Regions from separate parts of the Homo sapiens genome. Here region 1 is linked to region 2. A link means that fine-mapping ties the variant in region 2 to the plasma level of a protein whose gene starts in the linked region. Region 2 holds a variant in brackets. A gene starts in the other region. All regions are shown on their reverse strands.

Region 1 (5,354 bases), not on the chromosome of region 2:
AAACTCCAGTTCCCAGAGCCGAATGGCTTTCCCTGAACCAGTATGAGGCCACAGGCTCGGAACACATGCCTGGAGATCAAGGCAGAGAGGAGAGCACTCCCTGCCCAGAGTCTCGCGACATGTACCCAGTCCTCCAAACCAGCTCGATGCCCCCTCCTGACTGGGTCTTCCTGGGTCTCCTCCATCACAAAATGAAAGCACTTGGCTCTCTGGCTGCAAGGTGGACCCAGACTCCCCTGGCCCGAATTCTGTTTCCATACCAGTCTTCCCAAATCCCAAAATGTGAGAGCTCGATGGGGTCAGGATCTCTTGCATCTCCAGGCCCCTGCCCCGCTCTGGCCAGCTTGGACCCTGCACTCAACAGGGGCCAGCAAGTATCTGGGGAGCACAGTCTAGTGCCCCAAACCTTCTGGCCATCTGATTCCCTGGCCCAGGTGGCCAGGTGCCTTGACACTTGGGGGCAGCTTGAGACGTGGGGGTGGCCTTCATGCTCGCTTATGCCCTAGACTACCCCAGCTGGTTGTGCTGAGGCCATCAGCGCCTGGTTGTCCAGAACTCTCCCTGGCTTCCCTGAGTCCTGTTTCGGGAGGTGCTCTCCTGTGATTGGCCTACGCCTGCTGGACCCCAAGCCTCAGCTTTGGCGTTGAAAGTACCACCATCAGTGGTCCTGCCTCTCTGGAAGGTGAACGGTTCCTTCTTAAGAGTTGGCAAGAAATAGGAAATGGGGGAGTTCCTGAGCTTAAGGATGGGAGAGGCACCTCCCTCCTCACACCCTAGGGACCCATTGGTAAGGCACAAAGCATGCTTCCCACATTCTGTCACTCCAGGAGGCTTCCAGGCACAGCCCCAGCCCCTCGAGGGGCTCCTGTGTCCTCTCCTAGCCCCAGATGCTGGACCTCCCTGGTACCTGAGTGTAGTCTTGGCTAAAAGATCCTAGAAAAGTGACCACAAGGAAACAACCAGAAAGGGGACTGAGAGGGCCGGACCCGGCTCCTCCAGCACCAGTGGCAGGAGATGAGGGAAGGGGGCCTACCTGAGAGGGCTGCCGTCAGCAATCCAGTGATCCCGAAGAAGAGCCACATGTCTGGAGCTGTCTCTGGCTGCTACGCGTGGCTGCCTGTGGGAAGCACCATCTTGGGGCCGGGAGGTGGACACGGCCGTTGTGCGCCCCTGGCGCAGGTCTGCTCTACCCTTTGCTGTTCTTGTTCCTGTGTCTCTCTCTGCTCTCTCCTCTCCGACACGCATGCGATCAAACCCAACCTGTGAGTGTCTCACGCCTGCTTGTTCTGCTTGTGGTTTTGGTCTGCAGGAAGCTGGGCTGCTGTTACAGGGGCTGGTGGGGAGAGCCCCAGCTGCCTGTGCTGGGAGCCCACCCATCCAGGCTGCACCCCAAGAGTCACGGAGCCAGACACACGCATGCACACGCATCCATGCAGACACACTTCCCCGAGGGTCTTCTAAGAAGAAGGGAAGTGGAAGAGCCATGCCTCATTTCTGGTGGCCCAGAAGAAAAAATTGATAATGTAGTAGCTGCTCAATCAGTACATATTGGAAGAGGGAGTGAATGACCCATTGCCTGTCCCGGTCCGTGTAATTTGGCTCTCTTGGATTAAATCCTGAGTTTTATCTTAACCTTAGGTGCAATGGTGGTTGGGAAGGAGGGTGTGGTCTTGATGCACTTTTGGAGATAAGAGCCTAAGTCTCCCCTCAGAGAAATATAAATTGGGAAGGGCCTGAGAGATGGCCATCCCACAAGTCCTTCTACAGGGAAGGGTGCCAAGGCCTTGTGGGAGCCGCCCCGTCAGATGGCACAGTGGGGCCAGCTATCCCATCTCCAGGTACCAGACTGGGCATGCCTCCGTGGGAGTCAGGCATGGGAGCTGGGTCTACAAGGCTGAGCAGGATTTTGACAAACAGCAATCATGGGAGGCCTCTGGGCCAGAAGGAATAGCAGGAGCAAAGGGCTGAAGGAAGGAAGCCCAGGGCTGCCTGAGAAACCCCGAGTTGCCCCATTGCACTGCAGCAGACTGACGCTATAGGAAGAAGGCAGGGGCCAAGCGTGTTTAATTCCCATGGTACTCCCTGTGGAGCATATGGTAGGAGGTGAATAAATGTTTATTGAATGAGAAAAGGAATAGATAATTTGGTTGTCCAAGCAGGGCCCTGGAAGTGGTCAAATCCAGAAGGGGTTTGGTTCCAAATCCTGGCCCTGCCTCAATTGGTCCCATCCCAGGTCCACCTCTCCTGGCCCTCCACTTCCTGCATCCTTGCTTGTCTTCATTTCCCCAACATGTGGAATGAGGAGCGGTCCTCCTCCATTGGGTTCGGTCCTAAATGTGGGTGTATGCATTTGATGCGGCAAGTATTAGAGCCACGGGGAACCAGGCGCCCCCAGAGTGAGACTCCTCCCAGTCCTGCCCCAGCGCCGGCACCTGCTGCCGCTGCCCTCTGGTGGAAGTCACTGGCAGCACAGGTTTGCATGGGTGCCTCGAGCTCCCAGATGCAATTCCATTCATTTACACAGTCTTGGTGTGCAGAACTCTGGACAGGACTCTGTGGAAGTGAAAGAGAGGAAACCATATTCCTGCCCTCAAGGAGGATGAAGTTCACACACACACAAGTGACCAAACCACAGGCCAAGGTAGGACACACATAATGTGAGGTCTCCTGGTCCTAAGAGGAACCCGTTTGAAATGGGCCGGGAAGGATGGCTAGACTCCATTTCTGACAATATGGTAGACAGCAGATGCTGAAGAATTCTCCTAATACAAAACACCACAAAAATATTGTAAACCATCTTTTAAAATGTGTAGCTGAGGTGGTGAGAAATGAAGAAAATCATCAGAGATCAAAAACGACAATAAGCCTGGGCAACATGGTGAAACCCTCTCTCTGCAAAAGGTGCAAAAAATTAGCCAGGTTTGGTGGCACACACCTGCGGTCTCAGCTACTCAGGAGGCTGAGGTGGGAGGATCGCTTGAGCCCAGGAGGTCAAGGCTTTAATAAGCCAAGATTGCACTGCTGTACTCCAGCCTGGGCAACAGAGTGAGACCTTGTATATGTTAATATATAAAGACAACAAAAATCCAAAGAGATCACAGCCAGCAGAGAAGTATCTGTTGATCCAGTTGACCAAGAGCTTCAGTCTTATGAACATGGACAAAAGTTAAAGCTGAGAAACAAAATCGAAGTGAAAAACAAAATCCAAAATTTCTGCCTTAAACAAAGAGCACTGAAATACAACATCCACAGTGGAGAACTCGGAGAGAAAAATTCCTTAAAGCGAGCTGACACAGAGCTTGCCCAACTCAGTATGGACTCTGAGTGGGAGAAAAATAAATGTCAACCCTGAATGCCCCTCACCACAAGTCTACCCACTAATAGGCCTGGAGGTGAAACTCATGGTGACTTTGTGGCAAAAACAACCACACAAAAAACAAACAAACAAAAAGATAAGATAAGAATTTAAAGTAAGGTAAATAATAGCTCCTTAGGCACGTGGCAGAAACAAATGATAAAAATTGTCTCTGGAGTAACTCATCCTATATTCATGACTCAAAGAAATCCCACAGAAAAACTCCCATGGAACATGAGTTCACATGTTTGTAAAACAGAAAAATCATAAAACACAGGACACAAGGTGCTTTAGGTGAGAGGAGCACCAAGCAATAAACTAAAAATGCAGACCTTCGAACACATCTCAGATGTTGGAATTGCAGTATATATAATATAAAATAAGGATGTTTCATATGCTTCAAGAATTAAAAGTTGGTAATTGAAAGTATAGATAAGGAACAAGAGACTATTTAAAGTGACCAGGAAGATTGAGGGAAAAAAAGCAAGCAGTTATGTAAAAACATAATTTTTGAAAATAGAAGCCCAGTGTACAGATTAAACAGTAGATTAAGGCTCAGCACTTTGGGAAGCTAAGGCAGTCTGATGGCTTGAGGCCAGGAGTTCAAGACTAGCCTGGCTAACACAGTGAAACCCTGTCTCTATTAAAAATACAAAAATTAGCCAGGTGAGGTGGCACATGCCTGTAGTCCCAGCTACTCAGGAGGCTGTAGCACAAGAATTGCTTGAACCCAGGAGGCAGAGATTGCAGTGAGTCGAGATTGTGCCACTGCACTCCGGCCTGGGTGAGAGTGAGACTCTGTCTCAAAAATAAATAAATAAATACATACATAAAAATAAACAGCAGATTAATATGGCTGAAGAGACAACTACTGGGGTGAACAATAGATTTGAAGAATTTACCCAGGATGGAGCACAGGAGGACAAAGTGGTGGAAAATATGAAAGAGGCTAAGAGACATAGACAAGGAACAAGGATTTAAATATGTCTAATTAGAGTTCTAGAAGAAAATGGAAAATTTCTAGACTTGATGAAAGACACAATCCTCAGATTCTGGAAGCTCCCCCAACCCAAGCATGATAAATAAAAAGAAATCTACACCAAACATTTTTGGTAGCAAAACTGCTGATCACTAGACAGAAGATGGATGAATGATGAAGTAGATGGGCAGCTAATATGTCAATACCAATAACTAAAGCCAGAAGGCGATGGAACAACATCTCAAAGTACTAATAAAAAAATAACTGTCAACCTTGACTATCTTTCAAGTATAAGGTTTAAAAGACACATTTTCAGATGAAAATTGAGAGCATTTATAGCTAACAGACTCTCACCTAAGGGAATTCTAAAGGATGTTCTTCAAAAACAAGAAAAATAATCTCAGAAAAAAAAGTCTAAGATTCAAGTAAGAATGGTGAGCAAAGAAATATGTAAACACAGAAGTGGATTTAATAAGCACTGATAGCATAAAATAATTACAAAAATGTCCACTTTGTGGAGTTAGAAAAAAATGAAATAGGCTGGACATGGTGGCTCATGCCTGTAATCCCAGCACTTTGGGAGGCTGAGGTGGTTGGATCACTTGAGGTCATGAGTTTGAGAACAGCTTGGCCAAAACGGCTAAACCCCATCTCTACTAAAAATACAAAAATTAGCCAGGCGTGGTGGCTCGCATCTGTAGTCCCAGCTATGCAGGAGGCTGAGGCAGGAGAATCACTTGAAACTGGGAGGTGGAGGTTGCAGCGAGCCAAGACTGCACCACTGCACTCCAGCCTGGGCGACAGAGCGAGACTCTGTCTCAAAAAAAAAAAGAAAAAAAAATTAAAAAAGAAAAAAAAAATGAGATAAAACTAAAGAACCATAAAACAATAACAAATTGGTGAGGAGTGATCAGAGTGGGAAAGGTCTATTATTTGGTGGGAGGGCAAAATATTGACTAGCATTTGACCTTGTTCAATTAAACATGCATGTTAAACTAGTTGAACAATAAAATGGAACTT
Region 2 (5,373 bases):
CCATGCACTTGGTGTACCGAGCCCTGGAGAAGGAGCCCGTGCCCTCCGCCCTGCCCCCGTCCCTCATCCCACCCTCCAAGAGAAAGAAGACTGTGTTCCCTGGCGCCGTCCCCGTCCTGCCTGCCAGCCCCCCACCAAAAGACAGCCTCCGCTCCACGCCGTCCCACGGCAGCGTCAGCAGCCTCAACAGCACAGGGAGCCTGTCCCCCAAGCACAGCCTCAAGCAAACACAGGTACGGAGCCCTCAGCGGGCACAGCCCCCTCTCAGAGCACAGTAGGATGTTTCTCGGGAGTTCTTAACATGCAACCCCAGAACGGTCAAGCTTGTGATGAAATGTCTTTAAAAAATGCTTGTGGCCAGGTGCGGTGGCTCACGCCTGTAATCCCAGCACTTTGGGAGGCCGAGGTGGGCAGATCTCAAGGTTAGGAGATCAAGACCATCCTGGCCAACATGGTGAAACCCCGTCTCTACTAAAAATACAAAAAAATTAGCTGGGTGTGGTGGTGCGCACCTGTAATCCCAGCCACTCGGGAGGCTGAGGCAGGAGAATTGCTTGAACCTGGGAGACGGAGGTTGCAGTGAGCTGAGAGCGCGCCACTGCACTCCAGCCTGGGCAACAAGAGCGAAACTCTATCTCAAAAAAAAAAAGTATTCATTTATCTCATTATTTCAACATGGTCTCCCCTATGTTACTCAGGCTGGTCTTGAACTCCTTGGCTCAAGTGATCCTCCTGCCTCGGCCTCCCAAAGTGCTGGGATTACAGGTGTGAGCCACCGTGCCCAGCCTGTGTCTGCAGAGCTCTTGCCAAGAGTTTTGAAAGTCAGGTTAGGGGAGGTACTTTACTGGCAACGAAGCTAGTGGGGCCAAACTCACTGGTAGGCACAGGTCACCCAGCGTCATAACCCACCTCTCTAGTGATCTTCTGGTGGTTCTCTCAAGACCCTCTGACTAGACCGATTTTACCAGTGGCCCCTGGTGGGGTGGGGTGGGAGGGTATAGCTCCTGCCCCCACGACGGCATTGGTAGGATCACAGTCATGAAAACGAGCATTTCTGGGGGCCTACAGTCCACATGCTCCCCCTACTCCAACTTCCTCATCTCCAGGCCAGCAATGCTCTTGTCTGGGCCTCCCAAGGGCCACCCGATTTTGCCCTCATGCCAGGTTTGAGTGAAGCCACTTCCAGCCACCAGGGTCTGATATCCTTCCTTTGGGACCTGTGGCTGCTGAGCCGGCCTTAAAGCCCAGCTGTCACTGGGAGAGCCAGCTCCACGGCAAGGCTGCCCCGTGTTGGGTTTATAGTCAATTTGGCATCAGAATCTTGCTGCTAACATACTCTGAGGCTCCAGAAATCAGGCAGTGAGTTCCTTTTGTTTGCCCAGCAAGTATTATTAGGACTCTTGTCATCCCAGAGCTATAATTTCATACGTAATTTCTTCTTGGGACCCGTGGGACACAGAACCCCCCTTGTTTCTGTGTCCCGCCACAGCTCAGCTTGTCTGACTCCTGTTACCTCTTTGTGATCCCTGGCTTCTGAGGTTAGCTTGCTGTAGCTCCGTGACTTAAAAGGCAGCAAGCCCATTTCTCATTAGAATTCCTTTATTGGCATCTTTACGTCCACCAGACTTGAGAAGGCTCACAAAATTTACACAGTACAATGCCACAAGTAAAAATCAGGTTGCTCTTGCCATCTGAACTCTCATCATTTGAATTAGATCCATAGATTTTTTTTTTTTAAATATATAAGAGACAGGATCTTGCTCTGCTGCCCTGGCTGGAGTGCAGTGGTGCAATCACGGCTCATTGCTATCTCAACCTCCTGGGCTCAAGTGATCCTTCCACCTCAGCCTCCCTAGTAGCTGGAATAGGTGGATGCCACCACACCTAGCTAATTTTATTTATTTATTTATTTTGTAGAGATGGGGTCTTGCTGTGTTATGCTGGCTGGTCTTGAACTCCTGGGCTTGAGGGATCCTCCTGCCTTGGCCTCCCAAAGTGCTGAGATTACAGGCATGAGCACTGTGCCTGGCCTAGCTCCATGGATTTTGATAAATTGTTTGATCAAGTCCTTGCTGTACTTCATCACACATACTTGCTACGTGAAACCCCTGAACTAAGCTGATCTGGGTCACATGGTATCCCTTGTTTCCCAAGCTTGCTTTCTGATTTCCCTGAGTTGGTATCAGGAGCCTGTTAGATTTGGACATCACAGGAGACTCGTTCATGAAGAGTAAACGAGTTTAACCATTGTTTCCCAGTCTTGACCATGAGTCCCTTCTCCTCAATCCTATGGACATCTTCGGGTTGTCAACACTGTGAGAACTCTTTGAGAAATCCCCCCCCCCTTTTTTTTTCCCCGAGACGGAGTCTTGCTCTGTCGCCCAGGCTGGAGTGCAGTGGCACAATCTCAGCTCCCTGCAACTTCTGCCTCCCAGGTTCAAGCAATTCTCCTGCCTCAGCCTCCTGAGTAGCTGGGATCACAGGTGCCTACCACCACACCTGGCTAATTTTTCGTGTTTTTAGTAGAGAGGGGGTTTCACCATGTTGGCCAATCTGGTCTCAAACTCCTGGCCTCAGGTGATCCACCCACCTCAGCCTCCCAAAGTGCTGGGATTATAGGTGTGAGCCACTGCACCCAGCCTAAGAAATCCTTTCATAACTGAGAGGAATGACTTTGAGTGGCAGTTTCAGGCATCATGGCGTTCATTGAAGGTGAGGAGTGGAGTGGCTTTTCTGTACAGTTGCTGCGTGGAGAAGGAACAATCGATCCCTCCAGCCACATTTGCCTGTCCTTTTTCTCTCCACTCCCTCATCATCTAGATAATTCAATCAGGTGTTTATTCTCATTGCTATTATGAGATTGTTTAAAAGGAGTGATTTGTGTAAATATTTAAAAAAAAA[G/AG]GGAAGAGGAAAAGCACGTCTAGAGTTCAGGACACAGATGCCGTGAACTGTGGCGTGGTGGGTGTATTGAAGGCCCGCGGTAATGCAGGTGGAGTAGGCCACGGAAGGGGCCTGCCCCTGAGTGCCTGAGGGGCCTCAATGCCTCTGAACCAGGAGGTGACCGGGCCCTGGTTGACCCATGATGGCGTTTGCCTCTCTCAAGTTAACTGTGAGCTGGTGGCGAGAGGGGTCGCACGTGCAGCGGGTGACCCAGCCCCAGGGCTGTGAACTTTGAGCTGCACTGGGCTCGTGGCTCCATCTGCCCTGGTGGGGTTGGGGCTGCATGAATGTTGGTGGGGCCTCGTGGGTGGTGGCCCTCTTGGATGGTGGTGTCTCATTTGTTACCTGTCAGTGACGTGTGTGTACTCACACCTTGGGGGTATCTTTGTTGTCTCAGGAGTGGGGCAGGGACATAGAAGGGTGGTCTTCAGAGTCCTGGGACAGGACACTTTGGCTGCCTGTAGGGCAGCCTTTGCGGGCTGAGGAGTGGGAGGACCAGGGAGGCTGGCATGTGGCCGGGCCGGTTCTCCAGGGACGGTCCTTCCAAGTGGGTGCTCGGGAGGGTCTTTCCTGGCATGCTTGAACCCATCCCCTGAAGATCACAGCCTCCCTCACACCCTGGGTGGCAGGGTGGATGGACAAGGAGAGCGGGTGATGGGGTGGAGAGAGGTGCAGACTGGCATCTGGGTGAGCTTCACAGAGCCAGCCTCAACCTGTCTCAGCCTCAGTTTTGCCAGTTACAGAACAAGGATCACATCTGCCCTCTTGGCTCATGGAAGTGAGGAGAGTTTGATGCCAAATGTGCATGGAAGTGCTTTAATCGCCCCATCATCAAAAAGCATGTGTCTGGGGGTCATAAAAAGCTTCCAGATTAACTGTTTTGCCAAAAACTGTTTCAGCCAACAGTGAACTGGGTGGTGCCCGTGGCAGACAAGATGCGATTTGATGAGATATTCCTGAAGACCGACCTGGACCTGGATGGCTACGTGAGTGGCCAGGAGGTGAAGGAGATCTTCATGCACTCGGGCCTCACCCAGAACCTTCTAGCACACATATGGTAAGGCCGGACAGGTGGCAGTTGTGGCTGTGGGTGGCTCCAGGGGGCCTGTGGGTGAAGACTGTGGAGGGTGGTGGTCAGGGGGCCCCCTCCAGCCTGTCACAGGCTTCCGCTGTGTCTGGCGTCCTTTATTCTCCCTGGCCTGACAGAGGCTGAGCAAGGTGCACGTGCCAAGGCTCGAAGCCCGCGCTCCGTGACGGTCAGTTCACTGTCTTTCAGTAGGAAGGGCCTCTGGTCCGTCTTAAGTGCTCCCAGGCCATTTGCTTACACAGCTGGGCCCTATTCTTGCTGGCTGTGATGCTGGCTCTAACAGGAGGCCTGGACTTTGTCACAGCCGCCTCCGGGAGGTGCGGGCAGCAGGGCCTTGGAGCCTCTAGCAGAGTGGCCTGGCAGGGTGAGGGCGGGGGCAGGAGGCCCTGCTCTGGAAAGGCCAGTGCTTTGGCTCCTGGCGGGAGGGTGAGCACAAGGAGACCCTGTCAGTGCCTCAGAGCCCAGTCGAGGAGTCGGCCTCAACCCCTCTTTCCCCCAGGGCTGGACACAGCCGACTTCATAGGGCTGGGGCACTCCTCTTGCCACTGGCCAGGGCTGAAGTCACTTTTGAGCTTGTTGCTCAGAGCCTTGTGGCCTTAGAGAAGGCTTCACTTGGGAGCTATCAAAAGGAAAGAATTGCTGGATAATTCTCGAGAGGCAAATACCTCCAAGTAGAGCAGTGAAATTCAGGATGTTACTTAGTGGCTTGGGGGAAATGACTGTCCTTAGTGGTAATTCACAGATGACCACACTGTGAGGTGGGAGCCTGAGAACTAGCTGTCGCAGAGTCATCACCCAAATGGCCAAGCCGCCTCCAACTGGCTAGGGACAGTGGGTCTCAGCTGCCTCAGATCCAGTGTCCCTTTTAGAAACCAACAAAACACAGTGTCCCCTTTATGACTCTGAAACCAACACACATACAGTTCCTGGTTAGCGCCCTGACACCCTGACTGTCATGTCTAGGGGTCAGTAGAGGGAAAGTAATTTATAATGCATGCTGCAATTGACACATGATGTAATGACATGGAAATGACACAGGAAATCACTAATCCACCTGGATCAAAAGAAGGAACTCAGAGGTCATTCCATGCGGGCAGCAAAGGGGAAGGAAAGGATGATCAGGCTCTTGAATAACCATGAGAAAAGAAGTCTAGATGTGTCTGCGAGTGGCTGGGGCGGGGCATGGCCCAATGTAGATGACACACCAGGAGGGACTGGGAGGAGGGGGAGCATGAAGACAGAGGCTTTTTCCCTGCGATGGCTGCCACCGTACGGGTCAGCAGAGCAGGATGTGGTGTCAGAGCCGGATGGCCGCTGACTGAGCCACCCCTAAGCTTGCTTCTCCT

Direction of the effects. Positions count from the first base shown, and alleles are read on the strand shown. Strength reflects both the effect of a copy and how common the allele is.
With allele G in place of AG in region 2, the plasma level of the protein whose gene starts at base 1,268 in region 1 is lower (weak association).

Evidence for each region. A credible set is the group of variants that fine-mapping cannot tell apart. PIP is the chance, under the fine-mapping model, that this variant and not a neighbour inherited with it causes the effect. Protein levels are from antibody-based Olink assays in UK Biobank. Linkage for the fine-mapping came from a reference panel and not from the study's own genotypes, which makes the PIPs less certain.
Region 1: it holds the start of CD6, and the variant in region 2 is the best candidate, but not a certain one, in a credible set for the plasma level of the CD6 protein (UK Biobank, PIP 0.52).

The regions. Positions count from the first base shown.
Region 1 is chr11:60,967,594-60,972,947 of GRCh38, reverse strand. It overlaps CD6 (CD6 molecule), which reads right to left and starts at 1,268. Exons shown (of 13, transcript NM_006725.5): 1 at 1,034-1,268. The coding sequence starts at 1,082.
Region 2 is chr19:16,419,943-16,425,315 of GRCh38, reverse strand. It overlaps EPS15L1 (epidermal growth factor receptor pathway substrate 15 like 1), which reads left to right. Exons shown (of 24, transcript NM_001258374.3): 9 at 1-233; 10 at 3,840-3,997. Among named protein-coding and RNA genes, the nearest start is that of EPS15L1, 49 kb to the left of the region's middle. RefSeq lists enhancers at 3,803-4,406, 4,407-5,010. The variant G/AG (reference allele first, on the strand shown) is at 2,902.